2 linked regions of the Homo sapiens genome follow. The protein of the gene in region 1 purifies or fractionates together with the protein of each later gene. This does not show direct contact. Each region holds a gene or a part of one and is shown on either strand. Other genes may lie near its edges.

What was found.
Region 2: the proteins of SELE (region 1) and SBF1 purify together in Homo sapiens (affinity purification with mass spectrometry; 2 studies listed by BioGRID and IntAct, with this or other methods). This does not show direct contact.

The regions. Positions count from the first base shown.
Region 1 is NC_000001.11:169,727,395-169,731,209, reverse strand, and holds part of SELE (E-selectin precursor), read left to right. Parts: intron 1-592; coding exon 593-778; intron 779-1,536; coding exon 1,537-1,722; intron 1,723-1,835; coding exon 1,836-2,024; intron 2,025-2,963; coding exon 2,964-3,152; intron 3,153-3,282; coding exon 3,283-3,471; intron 3,472-3,684; coding exon 3,685-3,815. UniProt on the Homo sapiens protein: Cell-surface glycoprotein having a role in immunoadhesion. Mediates in the adhesion of blood neutrophils in cytokine-activated endothelium through interaction with SELPLG/PSGL1. May have a role in capillary morphogenesis.
Region 2 is NC_000022.11:50,450,721-50,454,535, reverse strand, and holds part of SBF1 (myotubularin-related protein 5), read left to right. Parts: coding exon 1-24; intron 25-3,815. UniProt on the Homo sapiens protein: Acts as an adapter for the phosphatase MTMR2 to regulate MTMR2 catalytic activity and subcellular location. Promotes the exchange of GDP to GTP, converting inactive GDP-bound Rab proteins into their active GTP-bound form.

The sequences.
Region 1 (3,815 bases):
GCCACATGTGGTTATTGAGTACTTGAAATGTGGCTGGTGACACTGAGGAACTGAATTTTAAATGTTATTTGATTTCAACGAATTCAAGTTTAAATTTGAGTAGCCACACAGATAGTGGCTACTATAGTAGACAGTGCAGCATTAGGGTTTTAAAATTTGTAATGTATTCTAGTACTTAAATTTGAAATATAGCTTTGTGAATGGTTCTCATCCTGGTTGGAAGCTTACTGTAGTATTTTTAGCAGTTGTGAGAAAAGTAACAAGAAATTTGTTGTGGTACCTAAGTTTGCTGTGTTTGTTCATATAATTTGAACAGTTTTGAGGTAAACACAATTACACTACTCTCCCCATATCACTCAATATTTCTTTTTTATGGTTGTCATCACTGCTTTTTTGTTGTTGTTGTTATGGATCAGCATTTTCTTGAATAAAAGAAAAGGGGTAGAATTACAGTCAATTTTACAAATTCCATTAGAAATTTTATAAATTTTTAAACTAAAAAAAAAAAAAACCAAACTGTAGTTCTAGTTTCCAGTGTTCTTATCTGTTAAAGGTGAGAGATGAGCAGAACTGATTTGGGTTTCTTTTTCAGTTGTGAACTGTACAGCCCTGGAATCCCCTGAGCATGGAAGCCTGGTTTGCAGTCACCCACTGGGAAACTTCAGCTACAATTCTTCCTGCTCTATCAGCTGTGATAGGGGTTACCTGCCAAGCAGCATGGAGACCATGCAGTGTATGTCCTCTGGAGAATGGAGTGCTCCTATTCCAGCCTGCAATGGTAAATCCCTCTGAGAATGCACAGAACGTTCTGTAACTCATCCCTCATTGCTTCTGTTTTTTGATTCAACTTACATTTTCAAAACTTCAGGGAAAGTTTTTTTTTTGTTTTTGTTTTTAATACAATTTGTTCTCTCAGCCAATGTATATTGCCAACCCAGTACCTGCTTGGGTTGAGAGAGGTTTTTTTATTCTATGCTTGAAATGGGTGTTTCTGAGGCTCTGGTGATTTGTAAGGGAGACCATAAAACAATAAAGCTCTAGAAATCTCAATGGATTTCTCATCTTGTTTCCCTGTTTAACTTTTCCAAGCCATGGGACTAACTTAAGACCATGATAGTCAAGCAGTCTTAGTATCTCTTTTTCTCTCTTAATTTTATCTTTCTGAACCAGAGGCCAAAAAAAGAAAAATCAGTTCTTCAGGCTCTGATGGGCTAAAATAAATGAATAGCCTACGTATGTCAGTACTAGTCATAACTCCTAATCTGGAATCTATTTTTTTTAAATTTTTACCTCACGTAAATGATAACATAGATTAGAGACCACTCAGCATAGGCAAAGTGGAAATCAGAAAAGATAGAATATCCATGAAAAAGAATAAAAGCTTTTATTCTGGCTGTGCATGTCCCTAAGAATTGACATAGGACTTTGGGATCTACCCTTTGAAGGCAGCTTCCTCACTCTGTTAGGCACCCAGCTCAATAGGAAGTGAAAAGATCATTCTTCTGTAAAATTCATGGTGCTCTTTAAAATCCTCAGTGGTTGAGTGTGATGCTGTGACAAATCCAGCCAATGGGTTCGTGGAATGTTTCCAAAACCCTGGAAGCTTCCCATGGAACACAACCTGTACATTTGACTGTGAAGAAGGATTTGAACTAATGGGAGCCCAGAGCCTTCAGTGTACCTCATCTGGGAATTGGGACAACGAGAAGCCAACGTGTAAAGGTAGAGTTGTTCCACATGGAGACTTACTGTGAACATTCTTTCTCTCAACCCATACTGGAAATGGGCAAGCTAATTCTAGGCCGTGCTAATATCAATGCGTATATTTGTTACAGCTGTGACATGCAGGGCCGTCCGCCAGCCTCAGAATGGCTCTGTGAGGTGCAGCCATTCCCCTGCTGGAGAGTTCACCTTCAAATCATCCTGCAACTTCACCTGTGAGGAAGGCTTCATGTTGCAGGGACCAGCCCAGGTTGAATGCACCACTCAAGGGCAGTGGACACAGCAAATCCCAGTTTGTGAAGGTAAGCTTGAGATCCTTCGATTTATACTTTCTTAAAGAACAACCATCTTCAAACTTGGACAGTGAAAAAAAAAACCAATACCCACTTTAACTATAGAAATCAGATTTGATGAGCAACCCTCGTATCTTTGAGATTCATTTAAAAGAACTAATGTTTGGCCAGGGAAAGGATCATATGTGTTAAGAATGAATTCTTTGCTGTTTTTTTTTAACTGTGATGTGCTGATAAAACTTTGTAGACATTAGCATGGAATAGACAGAATTCTTAATCTAAAGGAATCATATTAGAAAATTCGGAAAGCAGAATAATGAGAACATGATTTGAATGTAAAACTCTCATCACACCTGTCTTCTGAAATGGCTCATAATTAGCAGTGATGAGACTGTTTCAAGCATGGTGTCAGCTACAGAGATAGTATTGATGCATATATAAGCAGTAAATTTTAATTCACTTTAAAGTGAGAGCAAGGATATTGAAAACAAGCAGTTTTTACTATCAGGCACTGGCCTTGTCCTAGCCAAAGCCAGCACAGAATGATTTCCAGTAGCAAAACATAACACAAAAACCAAACTGCAAAACAGACAAATTTTATAGGGGTGCTTTCTTTTCTTTCTTTTTGGCACCATCTATAAACATCCATGACCCATATGTTGTCCTCAGACTGCGTGAAATCTTTCCTTGGACCATAATTTATTTTGTGTGTTAGAAGAACAGTGCTCAGGAACTAATGTTCTGATTAATTAGTCTTTTAATTAGTGCCATGATCAGTGAGGGGGCTGAAATTCAAAGAAAACACAGCCATCTTCCCATTTGTCCAGGGAATTATAAAGAATCTTCAGTTCTCCAAGTGTTGCTTGAATGAACTGGGTTCACTCAACAAACGCCAAGTACTCTCTAGTTCCACTGCAATATTTTCTGACCATCATTTTGATGTCTCAGCTTTCCAGTGCACAGCCTTGTCCAACCCCGAGCGAGGCTACATGAATTGTCTTCCTAGTGCTTCTGGCAGTTTCCGTTATGGGTCCAGCTGTGAGTTCTCCTGTGAGCAGGGTTTTGTGTTGAAGGGATCCAAAAGGCTCCAATGTGGCCCCACAGGGGAGTGGGACAACGAGAAGCCCACATGTGAAGGTACAGTCTTTGTTTTTATTTTATTTTAAGATAAAAAGAACTATTGAAGAGCTTGGGAACTTGGTTACCTTGGGAAACGTATTGCTGGAGATGCAAACAAACTTCTAAAGTGCTCTCTCGTGTGTTCCAGCTGTGAGATGCGATGCTGTCCACCAGCCCCCGAAGGGTTTGGTGAGGTGTGCTCATTCCCCTATTGGAGAATTCACCTACAAGTCCTCTTGTGCCTTCAGCTGTGAGGAGGGATTTGAATTACATGGATCAACTCAACTTGAGTGCACATCTCAGGGACAATGGACAGAAGAGGTTCCTTCCTGCCAAGGTAGAATTGAGTGCAGACTTTTTTAGGGTACAGGTCAAATACTTCATAAAGTTTCTGAACCTAGATTGCCCCAAAGGGGTTTGGTCCTAATTTCCTACATGCTGAAAACTAAGTAGCGCTTACACTTTACATTCATTGTTGACTTTTAAGCAAGTTTTGGAAGTTTTCCAGTAGATTTTTCTGAAACTCTGCCTGTGTACCTAACATTTGCAGTGGTAAAATGTTCAAGCCTGGCAGTTCCGGGAAAGATCAACATGAGCTGCAGTGGGGAGCCCGTGTTTGGCACTGTGTGCAAGTTCGCCTGTCCTGAAGGATGGACGCTCAATGGCTCTGCAGCTCGGACA
Region 2 (3,815 bases), on another chromosome or scaffold:
GACGCCATCTCACGCCTGCTGGAGGTGCGTGTGATCCCAGAGCAGGGTCTGGCCTGGCACCCCCCTCCTCTCGCTCAGACACCAGGGTCGTGCGTGTGTGTGTACACTCGTACATGCACGTAAGTCCGGTTACCCCTGGGGGTTGGTGTGGCCCTGCCGTCTCCCCACCATGTGAACTGCCTACTGGCCTGGGGTGGCTGTGGCTCCCCAGGGCCCCGCACCACTCAGTGGGTGCTTCCAGACAGTGACAGGAGGGCCGTCATCAGAGACCCTCAGGTCTCAGTACACAGCCTCCACTCTGAGCACGTGTGTTTTCCCTGACCTGGCTTTGAGCAGCTCAGGCACCTGTTGAGGAGTCAGCCCTTAGAGACGACAGTGTTTTACTCCCTCTGCCAGACCGCCTGCCCCACCTAACGTGAGCAGCTCTGGGTTCTTGCCCTGAGAGCTTGGGGTTGACATTGAGGCCTCTCTTACCCCTCACTGTGCCATCCCTGGTGGGCCTGGACTGAACAAGGCAGAGATGCCTGGGAGGGAGAAAGGAGACTGCGATTGGGTGGTGGCTGGGTTGGTGTGTAAGGCCTGAGGCAGTGTCCTGCGCGTGGTGCTACCTTTTGGGGCCATCCCGGAGTCTCTGTGGGACTGAGCAGGCAGAGGAGTGTGGACCTTGGACCTAGGCCACGGGGGGACCTGCACTCAGCTCCCCACTGTTGGCTGTGTGGCCTTAGAGGTTATCTTTTTTTTTTTATTTTGAGATGGAGTCTCGCTCTGTCGCCCAGGCTGGAGTGTAGTGGCGCGATCTCCGCTCACTGCAAGCTCCGTCTCCCGGGTTCACACCATTCTCCTGCCTCAGCCTCTCGAGTAGCTGGGACTACAGGTGCCCACCACCACGCCCAGCTAATTTTTTGTATTTTTAGTGGAGACGGGGTTTTACCGTGTTAGCCAGGATGGTCTCGATCTCCTGACCTCGTGATCCACCTGCCTCGGCCTCCCAAAGTGCTGGGATTACAGGCGTGAGCCACCGTGCCTGGCCTAGTTATCTAAGCATCTTAGAGCTTCTGGTTCCTTGTGCAGAAAGTGGAAATGCTGATTCCTGCCTTACAGGGAAGTTGTGAGGCTTAAATGAGTCATTTATTTCAGTGACTTAGCATGGGGCACAGGGTTTGGGGGAGTACGGGAGTCATGGTTTGTGATGGAGGTGACCCACAAAGCACAGACAGCAGTCCCTTTTTCTCTCTAGCGATGCTCATTGTCTTAAAGTTGACGCGGTCTCATTGGTGCTAACAGAGTCACTCAGCTTTGTCATGACCAGTGTCAGCTTGCTCTGTTGTTTTCTTGTATTTTTTACTGGTCTGTGTGTTTATGTTTAAGGTGAGTTTCTTGTACACAGAATGTAGATGTAGTTGGGTCTTCTTGTTATCCAGTCTAATGGGTTTTTTTAATTGGAATTTTTAGCCCATTTTAATTTACTGTTACTATTGATGTGGCTGGGTTTAAGTCTGTCATCTTGCTCTTTGTTTTCTCTTTGTCCCTTTGATTTTTTTTCCTTTCTTTCTTTTCTTTTTTTAAAAAACAAGTGTTTTTAGTATTCTGTCTACTGTGAGTTGAGCTGTACATCTCTGTGTTGTGTTTCAGGGGTTGCTGGGGGCTATAATCATCTGACTTGAAATTACATCACCCTGTTGACACCAGAAGAGCCTTACGGCAGTGTGTGTCCATTCATGCCTTTCCTGTCCTGTTACTGTCACACATTTTATTTTTACGTATGACATAAACACCCAGTATGGTTTTTTTTTTTTTTTTTTTTTTTTTTTTGAGAGATGGAGTCTCCCTCAGTCACCCAGGCTGGAGAGCGGTGGTGCGATCTCGGTTCACTGCAACCTCTGCCTCTGAGTTCAGGTGATTCTCCTGTCTCAGCCTCCCAAGTAGCTGGGATTAGAGGCACCCACCATCATGCCCGGCTAAATTTTTTTTGTATTTTTAGTAGAGACGGGGTTTCACTGTGTTGGCCAGGCTAGTCTCAAACTCCTGACCTCAGGTGATCCGCCCGCCTTGGCCTTGCAAAGTGCTGGGATTACAGGCGTGAGCCACCGTGCCCGGCCCTGTTTTTGTTTTAAATAGTCAACTTTGTTTTAAGGAAATTAAGAAAGAAGGAAAAAGTCTTCTATTTTTGCCATTTATAACATTCTTCATTCTTTCAGTATAATCTGGTCTGGTTATTATTTCTCTTCAGCCTGAAGAATTTTTAATATTTCTTGTAATGCAGAGCTGCCAGTCACAAATCCCCTCAGCTTTTGTTTATCTGAAAACATCTTGGTGCCTTTATTTTGCAAAGGGCATTTTCTCTGGATATGCATTTCTAGGTTGACAGCTGCTTCTTTTTTTTTTTTTTTTTTTTAATTCAGCAGTTAAACTGATGTCACTTTAAAAGATCTCATTACTAGGCTGGGCGCAGCGGCTCACGCCTGTCATCCCAGCACTTTGGGAGGCTGAGGCAGGTGGATAACCTGAGGTCAGGAGTTCGAGACCAGCCTGGCAAATATGGTGAAACCCCGTCTCTACTAAAATATAAAAATGAGCTGAGCATGGTGGCGGGTGCCTGTAATCCCAGCTACTCAGGAGGCTGAGGCAGGAGAATCGCTTCAACCCGGGAGGTGGAGGCTGCACTGAGCTGAGATCGCGCCACTGCACTGCAGCCTGGGCGACATGAGTGAGACTCTGCCTCAAAAAAAAAAAAAAAAAAGATATTACTTTGTTTTCTGGCCTGTATTGTTTCTGCTTAGAAGTTGGTGTTGATTCTTATCCTTATAAACTGTGTATAATGGCACCCTTTGATTCTCTGCCTTAAGATTTTGCATTTAATTTTGGCTTCAGCAATTTGACCATTGTGGTTTTTGCTTTCGTCCTGCTTGGGGCTCTTTAAACTTCTGGGTCTGTGGGATGATCATTTTTGTCAAATTTAATACATTTCAAGCCATTGCTTCTATAAATTACTTTTTCTGCATGATCTCTCCCTTTCCTTCTGGAACTTTATTGTCCCATACGTTGCTGAAGCTCTGTTTGTTTTTTCTCAGTCTTTATCTTTGCAATTCATTTTGGATGATTTCTGTTGGCTTGTCTTCAAGTTCACTACTCTTTTCTTTCTTGTTTTTAATATACTGAAGCCCATCAAATGAATTTTTTTTTAATTTCTTGAGACAGGGTCTTGCTCTGTTGCCCAGGCTGGAGTGCAGTGGCACAGTCATGGCTCACTGCAGCCCGAACCTCCCAGGCTCAAACAATCATCCTGCTTCATTCAGCCTCTTGAGTTGCCAAGACTACTGGCGTGGGCCACGTGCCGGCTACTTTTTTTTTTTTTTTTTTTTTTTTTTTGTAGAGATGGGGTCTCCCTATGTCACCCAGGCAGGTCTCAAACTCCTGGGCTCAAGCAGTCCTCTCACCTTGGCCTCCTAAAGTGCTGGGATTACAGGCATGAGCCACCACACCCGGCCCCATCTAATGAATTTAACGCTTTTTATTGTAGAGATTCCCCATCTGATAAACCATTATGTCCATCTTTTCTTTTAAATCTTGAAACATAACTTAAAAATATATATAAAGATGGGGTCTTGCCATGTTGCCCAAGCTGTTCTCACACTCCTTGGGTCAAGCGATTCTCCCTCCTCGGCCTCCCGAAGTGCTGGGCTTACAGGCGGGAGCCACTGTGCCCTGCCTGTGTTGTCTTTCTTTAAGCTTAGAGTCTTGGGTTTTATTCTCGCAGGTAGGTAATGAGCTTGTGCGTCAGCTTGGTCTGTTTGAAGCTTGTTTCTAAGCTTTGT